5 separate regions of the Homo sapiens genome follow, and regions 2, 3, 4 and 5 are each reported to be linked to region 1. The links are microRNA targets in miRTarBase. Many come from high-throughput screens and were not tested one by one. Region 1 holds a microRNA gene; each other region holds the end of a gene's coding sequence.
The links. Region 1 holds the annotated microRNA hsa-miR-122-3p (AACGCCAUUAUCACACUAAAUA, at 2,283-2,304, opposite strand). A microRNA usually pairs through its seed, bases 2 to 8, with sites in the 3' UTR of a target mRNA and lowers its output. Matches are read on the target gene's strand: a 7mer-m8 pairs with bases 2 to 8, a 7mer-A1 pairs with bases 2 to 7 and ends in A, and an 8mer does both.

Region 1 (4,180 bases):
TACAGGTTTTCCCTCAGAATCCACTGACAAAGCAGATGGGGAGATGAGGATATTGATCGCATACTGGCGTGATTAACCCAGGTTCTACACAGATTCGACTGTGAAGCATGAGATTTCACAAAATAACTAGGCCAAAGGAGGCTGCAGGTACAGGACAGAACTTTAGACTTAAGAGATCCATGTTGAGTTGTGGCTGGAGGACCAGACGATTCCAGAACCCTTTAGACTCTGTTTGTCAAACCGATCATCTTTGCCCCATGTTGTATGGATCAAATGAAATGGCATGTGATATGGTTTGGCTGAGTCCCCATCCAGATCTCGGCTTCAATTGTATCGCACAGAATTCCCACGTGCTGTGGGAGGGACCCAGGGAAAGGTAATTGAATCATGGGGGTCAGTCTTTCCCCTGCTATTCTCATGATAGTGAATAAGTCTCACGAGATCTGATGGGTTTATCAGGGGTTTCCACTTTGGCTTTTTCCTCATTTTCTATTGCTGATGCCACGTAAGAAGTGCCTTTCATCTCCCGCCATGATTCTGAGGTCTCCCTAGCCATGTGGAACTGTAAGTCCAATTAAACCTCTTTTTCTTCCCAGTCTCGGGTATGTCTTTGTCAGCAGCATGAAAACACAGACTAATACAGTGTGCATGAGCGTGATCTGTATAACAGTAGAGCCCTCTATTAATGCCTGTTCAATTAGAGCCTTTGCCAAAAAAATACACACAAAAAGGAATGTCAGTGTCTCAATTATTTCAGGGAGTCTGATTCTCTTCTTGACAGTAGATGGTGCCAGGAGGGAAGAAATGAGAGGTGGTAAGAGATGCAGGGCAGGCAGGGGTGCTCTTCTTCTTCTTTGGACAGAGGCATCTCATGACCTTGAAGCCTTTGTAGTGTATCATAAATGTGTGGGCTGCATTCAGGTGAGGCTTTCCAGCAAGGGACTCAGAATTATTTCGCAAAGTTTTGCTCATTTGGCTCCCGTTTGGAACAATTACAATGGTCCCAAAATATAATGCGAGCCAGTGAATGCCCATCTCTGGAAATAACATCAGACACATTTAATTTAAAAGTGTCTTCAATGCCTAGGACAGTGTCAGGCACACGGTAGTCTCTACACATATTTATTTCATAAGTGAATGGTTGAATGGTTGAATTTGTTTCTGATGGTTGATCTAACCCTGTCTATTTGATTAAACATGTCCTACTTCATTTAACCAAGCCTGGGGAGGGAAGCTTTAGTCTGGCACAAACGAAACCTACTCCTGACTTTAGACACCTCTCAGAGACAGAATGGGTTCCAAACCAGAGCACCTGGCTGGGCCAACTGTCCTAGAAACTGCATGGGTCCCAGATTTGCTATGGCAGCTCACACATGCTTCATAAACAATTTTCTGATGGTAATTCACTGATGCAAGAGGAAGAAAGGCCTAGTGTACGAATTCAGTAATCAGCCTAGTAATTGATTGAAATCAGTAGAAATCAAACATATTCTAGAATTTCTGAAACGTCAGTGAAACCATGTGTAAGTTTATTAGAAAGTTGGATTTTTTAACGACGAAAAGAGAAGGACCCACACACCTTAATTTTGTACCTATAAGCTTGCGGTCTGTCTGCATAACATAGATTTAGCCCAGTCTTAGCCTTCTGCGTCTAACACTTTCCTAACTATTCATTTTAAGTCTATAAGCATGGGTTAAATGATTACCTCGTGCCTGGCCTTGTGTTGGGGGCTCTGAGGAACTCTGCAATCTTTTTATTTTCATTTTTTGAGACAGGATCTTGCTCTGTCACACAGGCTGGAGTGCAGTGGTACCATCACAGCTCACTACAGCCTCAACCTCGTGGGCTCAATTGATCCTCCCACCTCAGCCTCTCAAGTAGCTGAGATTACAGGCACATGCCACCATGCCTGGCTAATTTTTGTAGTTTTTGTAGAGACACGGTTTCACCATGCTGCCCAGGCTGGACTTGAACTCCTGAGCTCAAGTGATCCGCCTGCCTTGGCCTCCCAAAGTGCTGGGATTTCAGGCGTGAGCCACCGTGCCTGGTCTGCAATCTTTTTATTGACTTGGGAAAACAAGAAAATTAATCACCAGCTAAGGTATGTAACAACAGCATGTGAGAGGCAGGGTTCAGCTAACCATATTGGTTATGAGTGCAAAAGAGCCAGACTTTATTCAGTAAGTACACAAGATTGAGAAGACTGATATCAGATGAACCTTCTTGCTCAAAGCAAACGATGCCAAGACATTTATCGAGGGAAGGATTGCCTAGCAGTAGCTATTTAGTGTGATAATGGCGTTTGATAGTTTAGACACAAACACCATTGTCACACTCCACAGCTCTGCTAAGGAAACTCTGTAGCCACGAAGGTGTTAACTTCACCTCCACATTCCACCATTGTCACTGATAATAGGGGAACCTTGTCAGCTCCACATATTGTGACCTAAGCAGAGAAAAGAAGCATCACGGGTACAAGCATCTTGAGCAATGGGAAGAGCTGAACACTCTCAATGAAAGGCTTCTGTGTTCTGGAACAGTAGAGTAGTAGAGGGGTCCACTGCCTGTGTTCCACTGCCACCCAGCAAACCCCTTCTGCAAAAACTTCCTGTGAAAATGGACAGGAACTCTGTTTGCAACAATTTTCTAAAATGGCTGAGAGAGAAAGAATCTCTAGAGGGAATAGATTTCTGGAAATAAATACTTATTGGAAGACTACATTATAAATGAGAATAATCTGGCCGAATGAATGGATACTCTCCAACTCTCACCTCTTCACCTACTTCCCAATCCATCATCAGTAAATGTGATCAATTCTGCAGTCTAGGAAAATTAAAATTATTTTATATGGGGATACAGCAGTTAGATGTGTTGTGATCTACTCTCCGTGGCATCTATTGGATATAAAGGCATCTGGTCTTGCTCAAATGTTCAATCTTCTTGACCACAGTCATTTTCCACCATGGCGGTGGGTGGGAGATGAGGGGAGAGAAGAAAGAGAGGAAGATGGAGAGAGAGGAAACGAGTCCATTTTTAGTTCATGATACTCATTTTCTAGCAAAAAGGGAGCTCCAAATAAATCCCTACAGGATTTACTTGGCTTTCCTGTTAAAGATGGTTTATAATTGTTATGTGAACTCCTGCCCACCATGGAGAATGAGAGGAAATAAAGCATTTTACCTACTCCTTCTTTTCCTGCAAATGCTGAAAAGGGAAAGGGTTGGGAGCCAGTTATTTTTTCCCCAGGATAACTGAGTTGTTAACATCTGACCAGAGTCTTGCTTTAGCCCTAAAACCGGCCCATCTTTAACAGCTGTAAATGAACCCTTCCGTATTTTTCAGAAAAAAAAAAAAAAAATTGCGCCTTATTCTCATGTAGATCCTGAAATCACCCTCTTCAAGCTGGACTTGCAGTGATTATCCCCCTGCGAAAGCTGAAAGTCGTTCTGCTCCCATGGGTTGGAGTGTTGAAGTTGCCTCTTTTTTTCTTTCCCTTTTTCACTTTGTGGATTCGTTATCTTCCCCTAAGTGACTGATTTCCTTTGGTTCCTGTCTGTGGCCCTGGCTTTCTTTCATGAAATGTGGTCATTTGCAAGGCAGCAGGCCGTGCCAGTGCTACACATACTCTCTTAGGTGGGACTCGCCTCCTGGGCAGTTTTCCATGACTCAGAGAGAATGACTACGAACCCTAGAACTGCTCTAGGTGGCCCCAGTCACTGCCACAAACCCCTAGCACTCTGGGTGTGGCCAGCAGTGGACACAGGCATGTGGTGGCCCATCTTGTCCTTCCCTTTCCCTACAGCTCCTCCTAACACAGTAGCCAGGCTTGTCCTGCTTAGTCTTTGCTGAGGGACCTAGAACAGAAATCGCCACCTCCTGGTCATACCAGGGCTATCGCTGACCATCCACAAGAGGCTCTAGAAGTCTCTTAGCTCTGCTGGGAAGAAACAGTGAGAGGTGAACAATTCACTGATTAAAAGGGTCCCCGGAGGATGCGCTTGGAGCGCTCTATCCTGGGCAAGGGCTTGGACCCATTTCACTTCTCAGGGCTCCATAGCAGTATCTGAGCATCCTCCACTTCTCCATGGGGGCTCTGTTGGCTTTTGGCTTTGAATAATCTGCAAAATACAGAAAAGGGAAGGAACAGATGGAAGATGAAAAGAGATGAGGAAGTTAATG
Region 2 (4,180 bases), not on the chromosome of region 1:
TTTTTTTTTTTTTTTTTTTTTTGAGACGGAGTCTCGCTCTGTCTCCCAGGCTGGAGTGCAGTGGCGCAATCTCGGCTCACTGCAAGCTCCACCTCCTGGGCTCACGCCATTCTCCTGCCTCAGCTTCTCGAGTAGCTGGGAATACAGGTGCCCGCCACCACCCTTGGCTAATTTTTTATATTTTTAGTAGAGACGGGGTTTCACCATTTTAGCCAGGATGGTCTCAATCTGACCTTGTGATCCGCCCACCTCGGTCTCCCAAAGTGCTGGGATTACAGGCATGAGCCACCGCGCCGGGCCTGTTTGGTGTACTCTTAACCTCTAAGAGGTCATTTCCTCAATGGTAAAATTTGGATAGTAATGCCTGACTCAAGAGTGTTGCTCTGAGTCAAAAAAATACCAAGCAGTTTAATGAATATTGAGTGTCAGCTCCATCCCCATCAATGTCAGCATACCAAGGTCTTTCTCAGGACTCCTTTTTTTTTTTTGAGATGGAGTCTCACTCTGTCATTGAGGCTGGAGTGCAATGGCCCAATCTCGGCTCACAGCAACCTCCACCTCCCGGGTTCAAGCAATTCTCCTGTCCCAGCCTCCTGAGTAGCTGGGATTACAGGTGCCCGCCGCCATGCTCGGCTAATTTTTGTACTTTTAGTAGAGACAGGGTTTCACCATGTTGGCCAGGCTGGTCTCGAATTCCTGACCTCAGGTGATCTGCCTACCTTGGCATCCCAAAGTGCTGGGATTACAGGCGTGAGCCACCGTGCCTGGCTGCTTCTTAATATAATTATTTATATGTGTTGCCATTTCAGGTCTAAGAAGAGCCACAAGAAGAGCCGGAGAGGGAATGAGTAATGGACTCAGTTTGGTTTTAGTCCACATGGCCTCCTGTGGATATAAGGATATCTGTATGTGGAAGGATTAAGATCTCCCCCAGGCAGCTATAAGAATATTTTAGTTTTTTTCTTATCAAGTTTCTCAACCTTTATTTTTAATGAAGGAGGTGCTGAGTTTTGTATCTTTTTAATCATAATCAACATCAGTTTTTGACCCAACTAACCTTGACTGTATTCAAACTTATGAGAGTATAAAGGATCTGGAGGTTGGGGATATGACTGACAAGGAAAGGCTGTGGCCACCTGATGACCCTTTCCCTTTTTATTAAACCGGACACACCTGTTTCCCATTTCGCTGTAGTTTAGTTTTTGGTTTGTTGTGGTTGGAACTGCTTTGAGAATCCTGGGATTTGTGCTGCTGCTGTTATTCAAAGATCAAAGGAGTAAAACATAGTTGCTCCTAACTTTTTTCCAGCAGCAGCAAGTGGTAATAAACATGAAAACTGGTTTGTAGCAGTTTTGAAAGAATAGAATGCATTCAAATGTAAGGCTGCTTCTGGATCATTAAAGCCAGTTTCATCAAACAGTTCAACAGAGAGCAGCACTTAATACCCTTTATACAGCCCATTTTTTCATAGTTTCATTTGTTCTTGCCCACAAGCTTGAAATCCAGGTTAAGGTATCCAGCCTTTATCATATAAGCATTGACATTATCCAGGCCTAGTCAGTAGCAGTAGGGTAACGGGATTGAAAAAGATTTGATGGAGAGGAAAGTATCTAATATTAGTCATGGTTTTGACCTAAATTGCTAGACAGTCGTGCCATTCACAAAGTCAGAAAATACAGCAGGAAGAGACAGCTTTTAGAGGGGCAGAGAATTAGAGGATGGTGGTAGTAATGAAAATGATGCATTCAGTTTAACAAGTTTAATTTGAGACAGCTATGGTATAGCTAAAAACAAAAGCCCATAAAGTTGGAGATAGGGACCAGAGTTTAACATAGCGATCTAGGCCAGAATTGACAATGTTTAAGTAATGGTGGAATCTGTCAATAAGACTTCCCAGAGTGTTAATATATATCAGAAATGCACACAACAGAACCATAGGCAACACCAACACAGGAAGAAATAGAAGTCACCTATTGAAAACTGGAATGGCCCATTCAGAAAGACAGGAGAATTAGGAGAGAGTGAGTGAAAGAAGCCAAGGGTCAAGAATGCAGAAGCAAAGGAAGGACTAAAAAGCCTCCACGGACATCGATAATCAAGAGATTATTAAGATCTTTGCTAGAAGAGTTCCTTTACCTGTACTTAACTCCCTTAAAAAGAGAAAAGTGATGGAATGACTTCTGCAACTGTAGTCCCAGCAGGAACTGTGAAGACCAGCTGCCCTGCAGGATCCAGTTTTTCTTGGGAGGTTGTATCTGGTCATAAGGTAAACATTCTATATATTCTATGCCTGCTCTAGAATTGAAAGACTTCAGCAGTATTAAAGCATTTTTTAATCTTATTTGAGCTTTCATATTCTTCAATGGTTCCTTTCGTAATACCTGAGTTAATAAAAGTGGTCTGAAAGAGCTCTTACGGTTTCTGATAGAACTATATAGGACTACCTTTTAAGATTAAATATAAGCATCTGTACGTAAATGTATTACAGTGTCATAGCAGTTATTTCTTTATGAAAGTGATCTAGGTAGAAAGAAATGTCTTCTGGCATGGACAGAAATGACCCATGGACCAACCAAGCTGTCATCCAGTACACTCTTAAAATAAAACTTTGTCTTAAAATATGTTTTAAAGTAAAAATAAACCCACGCACAAAGCCCAATAAATTTTAGTAACAGAAATAAACCTCCCTAAACAAACATTAAAACATACTTGTTTAGACATATGGTAATATGTGGACCAAAATTGAGGTACCACAGCCAATCAATAGCAGGAAAGAGAATGTCCCTATTCTTTAATTAGAAGAAGGAGGTAAGAGTAAGACATGTTGCATGTCTGTAGATATCGTTTTGATAAAATTACACAGGAGATGGAGCTTGAGGACAAACCTTGCTGTAAGGCTCTTTCTGTCATCTATGTGCTTGCCTATGGATGAAGCATTTTAAACTTTTTGACTACAGCATACATTTTAAAAACGTATTTTACATCTTACCTCTGTACACATCTGTATTCTGTACTGAGACAAATTTCAGGAAAGAATACTTACTATGCAAAGTGAATTCTGGTGTTTCCTACTTGTTAACAGTTTTTAATATTGGATGAAACCACTTAATCGATTTCACTTCCAATAATTTGAAATACACTGACTTAAAAGCTTTGCCATAGGGCACAATCGCCTTTTAATACTAAGAAAGTAAGGGAGATGTGTTCCAAGGGGCAAAAGAAATAATGCATTTTTGGCCAGGTGCGGTGGCTCACGCCTGTAATCCCAGCACTTTGGGAGGCCGAGGCGGGCAGATCACCTGAGGTCGGGAGTTTGAGACCAGCCTGGCCAACATGGAGAAACCCTGTCTCTACTAAAAAATACAAAATTAGCCGGGCATGGTGGCGCATGCCTGTAATCCCAGTTACTTGGGAGGCTGAGGCAGGAGAATCGCTTGAACCTGGGAGGCAGAGGATGCGGTGAGCTGAGATCGTGCCACTGCACTTCAGCCTGGGCAAAAAGAGCGAAACTCCATCTCAAAAAAAAAAAAAAAAGAAGAAGAAGAATGGGTTTGGTGAGAGGGTTCCAATATTAACAACCCAACTTCAAGCTCATTCCTCTAACCTCTTCCTGTTTGTTATTCTTCAGTAGACCGAAGTTTAAATAAGCATTATTTAGAAAAGAACGATCACAGATTGCCCACTCCCTCAAAAAGGTTAATGTGACAGAAATTCTCCACCTGCTCAAAAAAGACAGCAGACATGATCTCTTTAAAAAAAAAAAGTTCAAAAGAGATTAAGAGATGAAAAATAAGATTGGTGGAGTTTAAAGGCCTTATACTAGAAACCACAAAACATAAAACAGCACAGAGAAAATAGGCTGGAGGAAATAAAAAATGGAAAAGAGAAATATGTAGAATAAAGAAATATTCTGATGGTTTAAAAAGAATTGGCCGGGTGCGGTGGCTCACGCCTGTAATCCCAGCACTTTGGGAGGCCGAGGCAGACGGATCATGAGGTCAGGAGATCGAGACCATCCAGGCTAACACAGTGAAACCCGTCTCTACTAAAAATACAAAAAATTAGCTGGGTGTGCTGGCGGGTAGAGCTACTAGGGAGGCTGAGGCAGGAGAATGGCGTGAATCCGGGAGGCGGAGCTTTCAGTGAGCCGAGATCGCGCCATTGCACTCCAGCCTGGGCA
Region 3 (4,149 bases), not on the chromosome of region 1:
AGTCCATATAAATACCCATTTCAATACCAAATTTGGTAAAAGTCACAATAATTTGCAATGGAAGCACTGAATATGAACTAGACATATCCCATAAATAGTAAAGCTTGGAGCTTTGTATCCAAAGTGCTAAATTGCCATTTTGGAAGTTGAAGAAAAACTTAAATTGCTTTTCTAGCCAGTTAATTGTTTAAATATTAGAATTTTCAATGTAAGCCATGATTACTGAGATTTATATTGGAGAAACACTCAGCAAGAAAAATATTGGCAGCATTTCCAGTGACACTGCTGTTGAAAAACCTCAATCTCGATGCATATAAAAATACTGTCACCTTTTGCTATCAGAAAGTGCTCTTTTCTTCTTTAATGGAAGTCCATAGTTATATGCATTAAACAGAAATTAAAAAGAAATGAGTAAAGAAGAAAAGAGAGGGAAGAGAGAAAAGGCAGGGCAGGAGGAGAGGAGAGAACTGGCCCACCTTCTTCCCAGTATTCTTTTTTTTTTTTTGAGACGGAGTCTCGCTCTGTCGCCCAGGCTGGAGTGCAGGGGCGCAATCTCGGCTCCCTGCAAGCTCCGCCTCCCGGGTTCACGCCATTCTCCTGCCTCAGCCTCGCGAGTAGCTGGGACCACAGGCGCCACCACGCCCGGCTAATTTTTTGTATTTTTAGTAGATACTGGGTTTCACCGTGTTCGAAAGGATGGTCTTGATCTGCTGACCTCGTGATCCGCCCGCCTCGGCCTCCCAAAGTGCTGGGATTACAGGCGTGAGCCACCGTGCCCGGCCCTTCCCAGTATTCAATGTGGCATATGGGGCAGCACCACCTCTGGCAAACTTTAAACCAGAGAGTGCATGTTTTAGCAGGCCACTGAATTAAAATTTGTGGCTCCTGGATTTCAAAGGCGGTTAATGTAGTAATTTGCTGGGAGTTATCAAAGGCAGAGAAAATATTGCTCCATGGTAATATCCTAGCTATGGAAAATAATTAGCACTTTCAGGCAGCAAGGATTAGAAAAGCAAATTTTCTCTGAATTCTCTGCCAAATTCAGCTAAAATTTCAGGATACAGCACAGGAATTCCAAGGCAGACAACCGCACGAGGTTCTAAGGTTTCACATTCTCAAAATTCATCATTCTAGAATGTTCTAGGGTGATATCATTGACCTTTGCGGGCAACCCTTTTCTGCACAGTCAGACCAGTACTGGTAGTTGAGAGTTGTGGGTAAACTTGGCTCTCATAAAAAAGAAAGGCATTGTATTTCAAGTCTTTACAGTAGATGTTTTTGTGGGACTTATCAAAGGAGAGAAGGAACCTCTTTGAGTTGGTGAGCCATCAACAAATCTGAGTGCCATTTGTGTGTTTCACTGGCCATTCTGAACAAGTAGAAAGGAAACTAGGATGGAAGTTAGGAAATTATGTTCCATCCTGGCTCTTTCACTAAAACCCAATTTATGGGTATATAAGATGCAATTTCCCCTATGTGAAAGACAATTCAAAAATTGCTCCATATCATACGTGTCCATACCACAAATGGAAAGCCTAGTACTAAAGTTACAAAATAATGATGTCACCTCTAGTGGTGAAATAAGGAAACAAAATATAACAGCAAAAATAAGAGTTTCCCGTCATAATGGTAGTTTCCTTAACAAAAATAACCACAGGGCAACTGATCAGAAGGAAAGTATTACTCTAAAATTTTAGATTTAAATTTGTTACTACTATAATAATGCTGCATACCAAAACTGATTGACATCTAAACATTTCTGTGTAGTGCTGAGATTTTCATATCTATTTTTTTTTCAGGGTAAGACTGACTTTTTTTTGCTAATATTGCGCCCATGATATCTTATTGGATTCTAATATATATAAGGATATCATATTTACATCAACAAGATAATATTTTTCTTTTTATACTTCCAGATCATTGTCTCTATATAACAAAAAGTATTTAATATTTTAATTTTCAAAAATGTCTCTGTAAATAAGATACATCTTACACAGACTGTATGTCTTACAGAATAGCAATTATATTCAATATGTTTATTTCTTTGTGTTACAATTTCCTTGTTTGCCTTATAGAGATGATTCAGGACCCTACCAAATCCACTAGGCTGTTGCAAATATCAAGATCATCTATGCAATAGTCATTTGAGAAAAATAAAGCATTATGCAAAATATTGCTATGCTGATACCAACTATATGAGCAACTAGGGATTAAGCCAGATCCCCGTGGGGAACAGAATATTCAACTTCCTCCTTGCAGTGAGGTGATAAAACCTGTATGGACCAGCTAGGTAACCCTAGGGGGAAAGAAATTGTTTAAAGAGACCTTTCTAAGGCTGGTAGGAAGTTGAATTTTCTTACCAATAGAAGCAGCTGAACTATTTGTTTTTTACACATTAAATTTGAAGTTGGTCTCTGATTTCCACCCATTGCCCAAGAGTTTAAGAAAGAGAGATGACCACAGCTACTGATGATTAACAGATCAAATGTTTTTGTCTGTGGTAAACACAAACATTCCTGAATTTCCTCTCAGAAGCTATTGTTGCATAGAAATGTATTATGATTTAGTCCTCCACAAATCAAAGTAATTTTTTTCTTTAGAAATACTCCCAGATTGGCTGAGTGCAGTGGCTCACACTTGTAATCCCAGCACTTTGGGAGGCTGAGGCAGGCAGATCACTTGAGGTCTGGAGATCAAGACCAGCCTGGCCAACATGGTAAAACCGTGTCTCTACTAAAAATACAAAAATTAGCCGGGTGTGGTGGCACACACTTGTAATCCCAGCTACTGGGGAGGCTGAGGCATGAGAATCACTTGAACCCAGGAGGTGGAAGCTGCAGTGAGCCGAGATCCTGCCACTGCATTCTAGCCTGGGCTACAGAGTGAGATTCCGTCTCAAAAAAAAAAAAAAAAAAAAAAAGAAAGAAAGAAAAAGAAGAAATACCCCCAGATACATGCTTCATCCTTTAACACTACCCAAGTATCTGAATGATTCTCTCAGATGTATTTTAAATAAAATTCTGTACACATAATCATCTCATCTAATATTTTAGTCTCCCACATAAAAATCTCAGCAAAAAGGCCAGCTTTTACTGAGATTACCTGTTTTAGATGTGTGTTAGAGTGGAAAATGCAAAAGTAGAGAAAAAAGGTTGTAAGGAACTGCTTTAAAATGGAAACAATCTTTTCCACTGGTCAATAGGATTATGGCTAATCTAATCTTGATGTTGAGCCCTTGACCCATATGCTCTACAAGTGTGTCTCTCTGTTTCAAAAGTGTGTATTACTTTTATAACACGGGTGTGGGGGAGTCAGTTGCATAGAAAGAGTCTCAGGAATGCTAGATCAATATAACACCTCAGGTGCCACTGAAATGGTCTCAGACGTTTAGGAATTAGAAGGCTCACAAAAGCTATTTTCACAGCTAGCTCAACCTGCTTAAACAATGTTAAATGAGTAATAGTCTTTTTTTTTTTTCCTTAGAGATAAATAGCATTTTAGAAAAAAAAATAAGGAAAAGCATATTCCCTTTTGGGGGCAACTGATTTGGCAAAATTTAACGAGGTTTTTAAAACTCAACAGTCATGGAGCACCATTAAATATTCACACAAAAAGACCCAGGCAGCTTAGAGATTAGTATTTCCTTGGTCACAAGACACCTAATTGACTTGCAACAAGACAAAATATTCAGTGCATCTGGTTGGGGCCAACATGGATGATGACGTGTTTCTCATAAGCCCTTTTCATTGTTTTCTCAATTTGCTTCAGAAAAACTTGCGGGATTCGTCCACATAAAGTGTGCACAGTCTCCAAAAACTTCAGCTGAAGGGGGTAATACATGGATTGAAAGAGATTGTCTTGAAAGGGAAACTGAAAGATGACAAAAAAAAAGTTTATTTAGTAACGGAAATGCCATTTTAAATGCAGATCATTTTTACTAAGAAATGACACAGGAATTACGATAAGCCCACAGGCACAGGTTTGGACAAGTGAAAAGACCTTTGAGGATCTAACTTAAAATCCTGTCTCAGCTGTGCAACCCCAGGTAATCATTTAAACTCTCCGAACCTCAGTTTCTTTACCTCTTTAAAAAGAAAAAGGCTAGGCATGGTGGCTTACACCTGTAACCCCAGCACTTTGAGAGGCCGA
Region 4 (4,180 bases), not on the chromosome of region 1:
ACTATAAAGCAAAGCAACGGAATGACTGAAACAGGACAGTGTCTCCCCCACCAGGAAGGGGCAACAGCAGGAACTTCGAAGGAAATGGTAACCTTCTCAAATGCAGTGGGGCTGTTTCCTCTTAATTTTTATAAATGTGTTCTTGTAGCTCCTCACTAATTAAAAACAACAACAACAACGAGTCCAGGCATGGTGGCTCACACCTGTAATCCCAGCACTTTGGGAGGCCAAGGTGGGCAGATCACCTGAGGTCAGCAGTTCAAGACCAGCCTGACCAACATGGTGAAACTCCATCTCTACAAAAGTACAAAATTTAGCAGGGCATGATGGTGGGTGCCTGCAATCCCAGTTACTTGGGAGGCTAAGGCAGGAGAATCGCTTGAACCCAGGAAGTGAGCCAAGATCGCGCCATTGCACTCCAGCTTGGGCAACAGAGAGACTCCATCTCGAAAAATAAAACAAAACACACAAAAAAACATGAAAATAAGATATTGTGGGCTGGGCGCAGTGGCTCATACCTGTAATCCCGGCACTTTGGGAGGCCGAGGCAGGTGGATCACCTGAGGTCAGGAGTTCCAGACCAGCCTGACCAACATGGAGAAACCCCGTCTCTACTAAAAATACAAAAACAATTAGCCGGGCATGGTGGCACATGCCTGTAATCCCAGCTACCGAGAGGCTGCAGCAGGAGAATCGCTTGAACCCGGGAGGCGGAGGTTTCGGTGAACCAAGATCGCATCATTGCACTCCAGCCTGGGTAACAAGAGTGAAACTCTGTCTCAAAAAATAAAAAGAGAAAGAAAGAAAATAAGAAATTGTGGAGGGCGAGGGATGAAACAGGACAAGGTGAGTCTGCTAATGCGTCTGTGCAGCCCAAAGTGCCAGGTACACCAAGTTCCTCCTGTCATTAAAAAATAGCAACAGAGCATGCCTGTTACAAAAACAACCAGCCAAGCAGCTCAGATCTTTGTGGGCATGGGCAGAGCCTGTCAGAGGGTGGGTTTCTCTGAAGGTTCTTGGGGGTCAAGCATGTTCTTTCATGGGAGGCCCCCCAGCAGTATCTATGGACTTTCACTTAACCCCATTTTTTGGTCTAGCCTCTCACCCACCCCTCCCCAGTACGCCTAAGACCCGAAGCTTCTCTGGTTCCATTTATCCTTCAAATAATCCTCACGTCACACCACCCCACCCAGAGGTGTAGCTGCTGGCTGCATGATGTGGGTGGGGTGTGGGTGGGATGTGGGGGAGCGGCACCCCACTGATCCTTACATAGACTTTCCATCGGTCCCCATTGTTGGCCGAAGCCTCACCTCACCCTCCATGGTCCTGGTGGAGTTCCTGAGCCCCTCCGGGGCTCTGGCAGGTAATTCCACTTGCCTTTTGGCCCCACCTTTTGGGAACACATAATTTCAGCTCTTAATTCTCCATCCACTTTCCATCTTTGAAAATGTCAGCCAGGCGGCCGGGCACGGTGGCTCACACCTGTAATCCCAGCACTTTGGGAGGCCAAGGCGGGCAGATCACGAGGTCAGTAGATCAAGACCATCCTGGCCGGCCAGGAGTGGTGGCTCACACCTGTAATCCCAGCACTTTGGGAGGCCGAGGCAGGTGGATCACAAGGTCAGGAGATCGAGACCATCCTGGCTAACACGGTGAAACCTCGTCTCTACTAAAAATACAAAAAATTAGCTTGGCGTGGTGGCAGGCACCTGTAGTCCCAGCTACTTGAGAGGCTGAGGCAGGAGAATGGCGTGAACCCAGAAGGCGGAGCTTGCAGTGAGCCGAGATCGTGCCACTGCACTCCAGCCTGGCAACAGAACAAGAGTCTGTCTCAAATAAAATAAAATAAAATAAAATAAAATAAAATAATAAAAAATTGTCAGCCAGGCACGGTAGCTCACGCCTGTAATCCTAGCACTTTGGGAGACGGAGGTGGAGGCAGGTGCCAGGAATTCAAGTTCAGCCTGGCCAACATGGTGAAACCCTGTCTATACTAAAAATACAAAAAAATTAGCTGGGCATGGCCAGGCGCAATGGCTCACACCTGTAATTCCAGCACTTCGGGAGGCCAAGGCGGGCGGATCACAAGGTCACGAGTTTGAGACCTGCCTGGCCAACATGGTGAAACCCCCGTCTCTACTAAAAATACAAAAATTAGCCAGGAATGGTGGCGGGCACCTGTAATCCCAGCTACTCGGGAGGCTGAGGCAGGAGAATCGCTTGAACCCAGGAGGCGGAGGTTGCAGTGAGCCGAGATCACGCCATTGCACTCCTGCCTGAGCAACAAGAGCAAAACTCCGTCTCAAAAAAGAAAAAAAAAAAAATCAGCCGGGCATAGTGGCGGGTGTCTGTAATCCCAGCAACTCGGGAGGCCGAATCACTTGAACCCGGGAGGTGGAGGTTACAGTGAACCGAGATCGTGCCACTGCACTCCAGCCCCGGCAACAGAGAGAAAAAAGAAAATGTGGTCAGGCTCTGTGTTCTACTGTCTTCCCTCCTGTTTTCTTTCCCTTTGTATTATTTTTGATTTTCTTTACTATCATCTTAGAGAGATCCTAAGAGAAAACTGAGACGAACACATGTGTTTAGGCCTGCCATGTGGAAATGGCGGTCTCTATTCATTCTATTTACACGGAAACATTTAACAAGCAGCTCTTGAGGAGGCCAGAGAGGTGCAGGCCTAGCCCTGTCAGCACCACCCTCCACAGATGCCCAAACAGCCCCAGCGCATTTCTTTACCTTGATTTCTTTCCTACTCATTTCCTCCAGCTGTGCAAGGGTAAAGGCAAAAGCACAAAGACCTGGGTTGGACCCTGCCTCCATTTGCCGCACCATGATCTTACCACATGGATTCTTAGAGCGTAACTGCTGCCCCATGGACCAGGTTAGCTAAGAGAGGTTCCATGAAACTGCTGTTGCAGAAATGCTTCTAACTATAAAATGCCAAACCTGGGAAAGAATGTTTGGATTCTCATAGCCTGGATCAGTAGGACACTGCCTTGGCGTGCTGGTGCCCCACCCCCAACTCACCCAGGCCAGGGGAGGTAGAGCCCCAGCCCCTGAGACCCTCAGGCATCCTGCAGTTTCCAGGCCCTACAGAGGGTCCCAGAAACAGCCCCAGCAACAAAGTGAGGGGCCAGAAACTATGCAAAGATGGAGGGAGGCTGAGAAACAAGTCAGTGCTTTATTAACCTGGCAAAGGGGCAGCTAGGCGGCCTGAGCAGCCCCTGCCAGACCCTCCTCTGCACTCCTCTGCCTAAGTCACGGCCCAAGCCCTGGACACGTAGGAGTGTAGGCGGGCAGGGGCAAGGCCAAGGAAGGGGTGGAGTTGTCCAATGCAGATGTTAAGGTCCAACCCGACTTCCTTACTGAGTCTAGGTGTGGGGGCCCCCCTCTCACCCCTTCCTCCCTGCACAGCTCTGGCTCTTCCTGGAGTCAGGAGGCTGTGTGTCCCACATCTGCTGTGGTCTGGAAGGTGATCCCATCCCCAGGCAATGGGGAGGCCAGGAAGGGCCAGAGCCAGACGAGGGCCCAGCGGGGCCCCAGGGCTGCCTGCAGGTTGTGGCAGGGACCCAGGTCATAGGAGTGCTGGCCCCGAGCCCACTCCCATGTGGTCTGGCCCCGCAGCAGCAGCATCCCATGGAAGAGCAGCCCAGCCCCGCACAGCAGCGCACCCGCCACGCACGTGTCCGTCACGAAGGCCAAGGCAAACTGTGCCAGAGACACTCTGCCTGCAATAAAAGAGCAGAGAGGGTCAGGGAGGGGCAGTGGGGTCCGGCTTTCCTGCCACCTGCTCCCCTCCACCACAAAGCAGGGCTCATTCCTCCGCTCAGCAAACCCTGTGTCGATACTCGCTGGCCAGCCCGTGCTGGGTGACAAGAACGCACTGGTAAACTGGGCAGACGCAGCCCCCTACTTGGGATACGGCTTCATTCCTGCATCACAGACTTGGTGAGCACCTCCTCAGCCCTGGAGGCGGTGCCAGGCACTAGAGGGTGTCTCTGCCCTTGGGGAGCTCACAGACATTAAAGAGGCCATTCTTGGCTGGATGCGGTGGCTCACACCTGTAATCCCAGCACTTTGGGGGGGCGAAGCAGATAGATCACCTGAGGTCAGGAATTTGAGACCAGCCTTGACAACACGGTAAAACCCCGTCTCTACTAAAAAATACAAAAATTAG
Region 5 (4,180 bases), not on the chromosome of region 1:
TTAGTGGCGCATTCCACACCCGCCTCATGGAGCCAGCCGTGGAGCCCCTGACGCAAGCTTTAAAGGCAGTCGACATTAAGAAGCCTCTGGTTTCTGTCTACTCCAACGTCCACGCGCATAGATACAGGCATCCCGGGCACATCCACAAGCTGCTGGCCCAGCAGCTGGTCTCCCCAGTGAAGTGGGAGCAGACGATGCATGCCATATACGAAAGGAAAAAGGGCAGGGGGTTCCCCCAAACTTTCGAAGTAGGCCCTGGCAGGCAGCTGGGAGCCATCCTGAAGAGCTGTAACATGCAGGCCTGGAAGTCCTACAGCGCCGTGGATGTGCTGCAGACCCTCGAACATGTGGACCTGGACCCTCAGGAGCCCCCGAGATGACTGCAGGGGGCTCAAATGCGATGACCCCCTCTGTCCTCCTGAGGAGAGGCTGTAGGCTGTGCCTGTCGCCCCCTACCTTCCTAATGGCTCCTCCTCTGAGGAGTGAAAGGGATTTGTTTGCAACGTGCTTTGAAGGCCACATAAAAAGCCCTAAAAATGAGTATTTCTTTACATGACCCAGTCCATTTCTCCCCCTTGGAAAAACGTTTGGACGTTGGGAAGAATGATGCCACAGGGCTGGTGTGTGGGGAAGCTAGAATCCTGGCCCCGCCTCTGCCAGCCCTGCACCATAGGCAGGTGTGCCATCTCAGCGGGAAGGGGAGGACTGGCTGCTGCAGCCTGTCCTGCTCTGTGAGTGCTGAGAACATGCTGGTGTGGCCTCAATTTCAGCCAGTGCCAGGGGAGCCCCTCCACCACCCCCAGCCTGCCCCCCAGGGCTCCTTTGTCACAAATCTGAAAGGTTTTAGAACCCAGTTGGCCTTGGCAGTTTTGTTCACCTCCTCACTTGACAGCTGGGAGACAGAGGCCCACATTTATGGACATACCCAAGAGATATGTATTGCCTGCTGTGTGCTAGAGAGTGAGTGCGCTCTGTTCTGGTAGAAAGGTCCTTGAGTGAGGTGCGGGGTGTGGGGAGTGCCAGGTAGGGAGGGCGACTGAGGCCCTGGTCCTAGGGGTGGAACCATGGAGGAACACCCTGGTCACCCACTGGGACTGCGGGTCTGCGGGGCGCCAGAGGGAGCACAGCACATACCTGCCTCGGAGCTGACCCCTGGCTCCATGCCCCGTCCTCAGAGCAGCTCCTGCGCCAATATTAAGTATGAGACATTCCAAGCTGCTTGGGTGGTTGTTCATTATACAGAGATAGTGGGAAAATATTATTGGGAATGAACTCTCTGATTGTCTTAAAATGTTACCATTGTGTAGACACGTCAAGTCCTGGATAGGGTTCCTCATTTTCACATTTTTAGTTCTCTGGTGTTTCTCAGCAGGGCCCAGCTGGCCTTTGGGCAGAACCCTCCTTCCTTATATGGGAATGTCCCACTCTTGGGCAGCTGCCCTGGTGCCGGGCCATTACACACCAGCAGCACTTCCAGGCATTGTGACCCCAGACACCCTGCATGTCTCGAAGCCCTGGCTGAAAACACAAAAGCCGATGCGATGTGATTCCCACTGCAGCCTGCATGCGCGTCCCTGGGAGTGCGACAGTTCTTTGGAAAGAACTATGTCTTAAATCTGTATTGCACAGAGAACTTGATTATTTTAAGTACTGAGCATGTTTGAAGCTCCTTCCCTGAAAGCTTCAAGCAATGGCAGCCTCAGGAGACCCAGGCTCTCCACGTCCAGGTTCTCTTGCAGCGCTGCAGGAAGGATGGCCACGTTCAGCTCTGAGGAACAAAATCCCAAATAAGGGAGGGGTCTGCCTCTCCAGGAGGACAGCAGTAAGGGACAGCAGGCCTTACCACTTGCTCTCTCTGCACTACCCTTGTCCTCATGGCCTGGGGCAAGATCCAAGCCCATGAAGGGGTAAGAGAAATCAGCTGGGCATGGCAGTGCGCACCTGTAATCCCAGCTACTTGAGAGGCTGAGGCAGGAGAATCGCTTGAACCTGGGAGGCGGAGGTTGCAGTGAGCTGAGATCACACCACTGCACTCCAGCCTGGGTGACAGAGCGAGACTCCATTGTGAAAAAAAAGTGTTCTCCATGGAACAACATTCTGTCCAGATCAGGGCTCAGCCTGTCTTTGCTGAGCACATCCTGGCCTGGCCTGATGCCTTTACATTTCACTCACAAGCCCGCCCACCTCTGGCCAACAAGAGTGGTCTCCAGCCAAGCACGGTGGCTCACACATGCAATTGCAGCACTTTGGGAGGCTGAGGCGGGTGGATTACCTGAAGTCAGGAGTTCAAGACCAGCCTGGCCAACATGGTGAAACTACATCTCTACTAAAAATACAAAAATTGGCCAGGCATGGTGGCTCAGGCCTGCAACCCCAGCACTTTGGGAGGCCGAGGTGGGCGGATCACCTGAGGCCAGGAGTCAAGACCAGCCTGGCCAACATGGCGAAACCCACCTCTACTAAACATACAAAATTAGCCAGGCTTGGTGGCACATGCCTGTGATCCCAGCTACTCAGGAGGCTGAGGCAGGAGAATCACTTGAACCAGGAGGTGGAGGTTGCAGTGATCCAAGATCAAGCCACTGGACTCCAACCTGGGCAACCATCACAAAACTCCCATCTCAAAATAAAAATACAAACATTAGCTGGGCGTGATGGTGCATGCCTGTAGTCTCAGCTACTCGGAAGGCTGTCAGGAGAATCGCTTGAACCCACGAGGCAGAGGTTGCAGTGAGCCGAGATCGCGCCAGTGCACTCCAGCCCGGCCGACTCCATCTCAAAAACAAAAAACAAAAACAAACAAAAAAAAAACGGTGTGTGAAGTCAGGCCTCAAAGCTGCAAAGGGCTGTGTGCAGTGGTGTGTGTGCCTGCAGACCCAGCTATTTGGGAGGCTGAGGTGGGAGGACTGCTTGAGCCCAGGAGTTGGTGGCCGACCTGGGCAACACAGGAAAGCCAAGTCTCTTAATTAAAAAAAAAAAAAAAAAAAAAAAAAAAAAAAAAAAAAGGCTGCAAAGGGCCAGACCTTGGGGAGAGAAGACATAAGGAGGCAGGAAAGCCTATTGGAGGTCCCCTTTGGTTTGGAGGCCAGGATGGAGGGAGGAGTGAGCAGGATGCAGGGTCTGCCCAGCCAGCCTGGGAGGTATGAACAGCTGCATCTCCCAGCTCTGGGGATGAGGGGGGTTGGGGGCTGGAGAATGGTGGCCGGCCCAGCCCAGCTTTGACATTTGGGGTGGAGGGCAGACACAGAGCCGATGTCCTGGGAGGGAGGCCTGGTGGGGTCTACAAATGGCACGAGGCAAGGCCCAGGGCAGGTACCAAGCCTACAAAGGTACAAAGCAGGGTCCTGGCCCTCCTGCCCCTGGTGCCCCTTGTCCTGCTCCCCAATCCCCACCACACCTCTCCCTGTGAGCGGAGCCACGGCTGCATCCCTGTGGTGAGGAGTCTGTGCAGGGAGAGGCAGGCATCCCCTAAAGAGGAACTGAAAGCCCAAAGGAAATAACCCCCAACAGTGGATTTTAGGCCACAGACCGGGACAAGGGAGAAGGCAAACCGTCGGGCCAAACCAAGGCAGCATTTGCGGTCCCCTTTTGCAGGGAAGGATCTGATTAGGAGCACACAGGCCCTGCCCTCCCCACCAACACAGTGTGCCTCCCTGGGGCGAGAGGAAGCCCGTGCTGGTGCTGCCAACCCCCCAGAGAGGACCAGAGACTGCTGGAAACCAACATTTTATTGAGCACTCCTGCTCCTCGGAATCTATTCCAGTAGATTCTTTGCCGAGGGCATCACATATCACACAGGGGTGTGACCAGCACTCCCCCTGCTACCTGCCGTGTGGGCAGGGGCAGGAGTGAATGGCTCTTCCTGGGCACAGGCCACAGTTAACCGGTGACAATTGCAGAGCCATAGGAATTCATCTTTTAGAAAAAACGAAAACTGGAATAAAAAAAAAACAAAAAACCTGAGTATAAAACCTCAGCAGTGTTCCAGCACTATCTCGGGGTTTAAATATAAAAAGGCATCATGAGAAAACAGTTAAAAAGATAACAGCAGCAGGCCGCCACCTCCAGGGCAGTGGTCATGGGGGTGGGGCCAGCCCCGCCCTGAGCCGCCGGGGCCTCACTTGAGCAGCAGGTGCAGGCCCCCGCTGAGCAGCGGCAGCAGCAGCGCCAGCAGCAGCAG

Region 2: miRTarBase lists PRPF38A as a target of hsa-miR-122-3p. Seed matches in the 3' UTR shown: 7mer-m8 at 4,113-4,119.
Region 3: the mRNA of GXYLT2 is a reported target of hsa-miR-122-3p. The part of its 3' UTR that is shown has no 7-base or 8-base seed match.
Region 4: miRTarBase lists ZDHHC24 as a target of hsa-miR-122-3p. Seed matches in the 3' UTR shown: 7mer-m8 at 2,259-2,265.
Region 5: the mRNA of MCAT is a reported target of hsa-miR-122-3p. The part of its 3' UTR that is shown has no 7-base or 8-base seed match.

What each region holds. Positions count from the first base shown.
Region 1 is chr18:58,449,248-58,453,427 of GRCh38, reverse strand. MIR122 (microRNA 122) reads right to left here and starts at 2,354; the gene lies at 2,270-2,354. It overlaps MIR122HG (MIR122 host gene), which reads right to left. Exons shown (of 3, transcript NR_170245.1): 2 at 3,888-4,119; 3 at 2,147-2,609. It overlaps MIR3591 (microRNA 3591), which reads left to right and starts at 2,276; the gene lies at 2,276-2,348.
Region 2 is chr1:52,415,839-52,420,018 of GRCh38, forward strand. PRPF38A (pre-mRNA processing factor 38A) reads left to right here. Exons shown (of 10, transcript NM_032864.4): 10 at 810-4,180. The coding sequence ends at 852. Among named protein-coding and RNA genes, the nearest start is that of PRPF38A, 13 kb to the left of the region's middle. RefSeq lists a silencer at 1,019-1,313.
Region 3 is chr3:72,974,698-72,978,846 of GRCh38, reverse strand. It overlaps GXYLT2 (glucoside xylosyltransferase 2), which reads right to left. Exons shown (of 7, transcript NM_001080393.2): 7 at 1,932-3,870. The coding sequence ends at 3,688. Among named protein-coding and RNA genes, the nearest start is that of PPP4R2, 20 kb to the left of the region's middle. RefSeq lists an enhancer at 1,376-1,445.
Region 4 is chr11:66,536,094-66,540,273 of GRCh38, forward strand. It overlaps ZDHHC24 (zDHHC palmitoyltransferase 24), which reads right to left. Exons shown (of 3, transcript NM_207340.3): 3 at 1-3,731. The coding sequence ends at 3,436. Among named protein-coding and RNA genes, the nearest start is that of ZDHHC24, 7.9 kb to the right of the region's middle. RefSeq lists an enhancer at 3,507-4,180.
Region 5 is chr22:43,129,243-43,133,422 of GRCh38, reverse strand. It overlaps MCAT (malonyl-CoA-acyl carrier protein transacylase), which reads left to right. Exons shown (of 4, transcript NM_173467.5): 4 at 1-1,214. The coding sequence ends at 380. BIK (BCL2 interacting killer) reads right to left here. Exons shown (of 5, transcript NM_001197.5): 5 at 3,711-4,180. The coding sequence ends at 4,118. Among named protein-coding and RNA genes, the nearest start is that of MCAT, 12 kb to the left of the region's middle. RefSeq lists an enhancer at 3,976-4,180.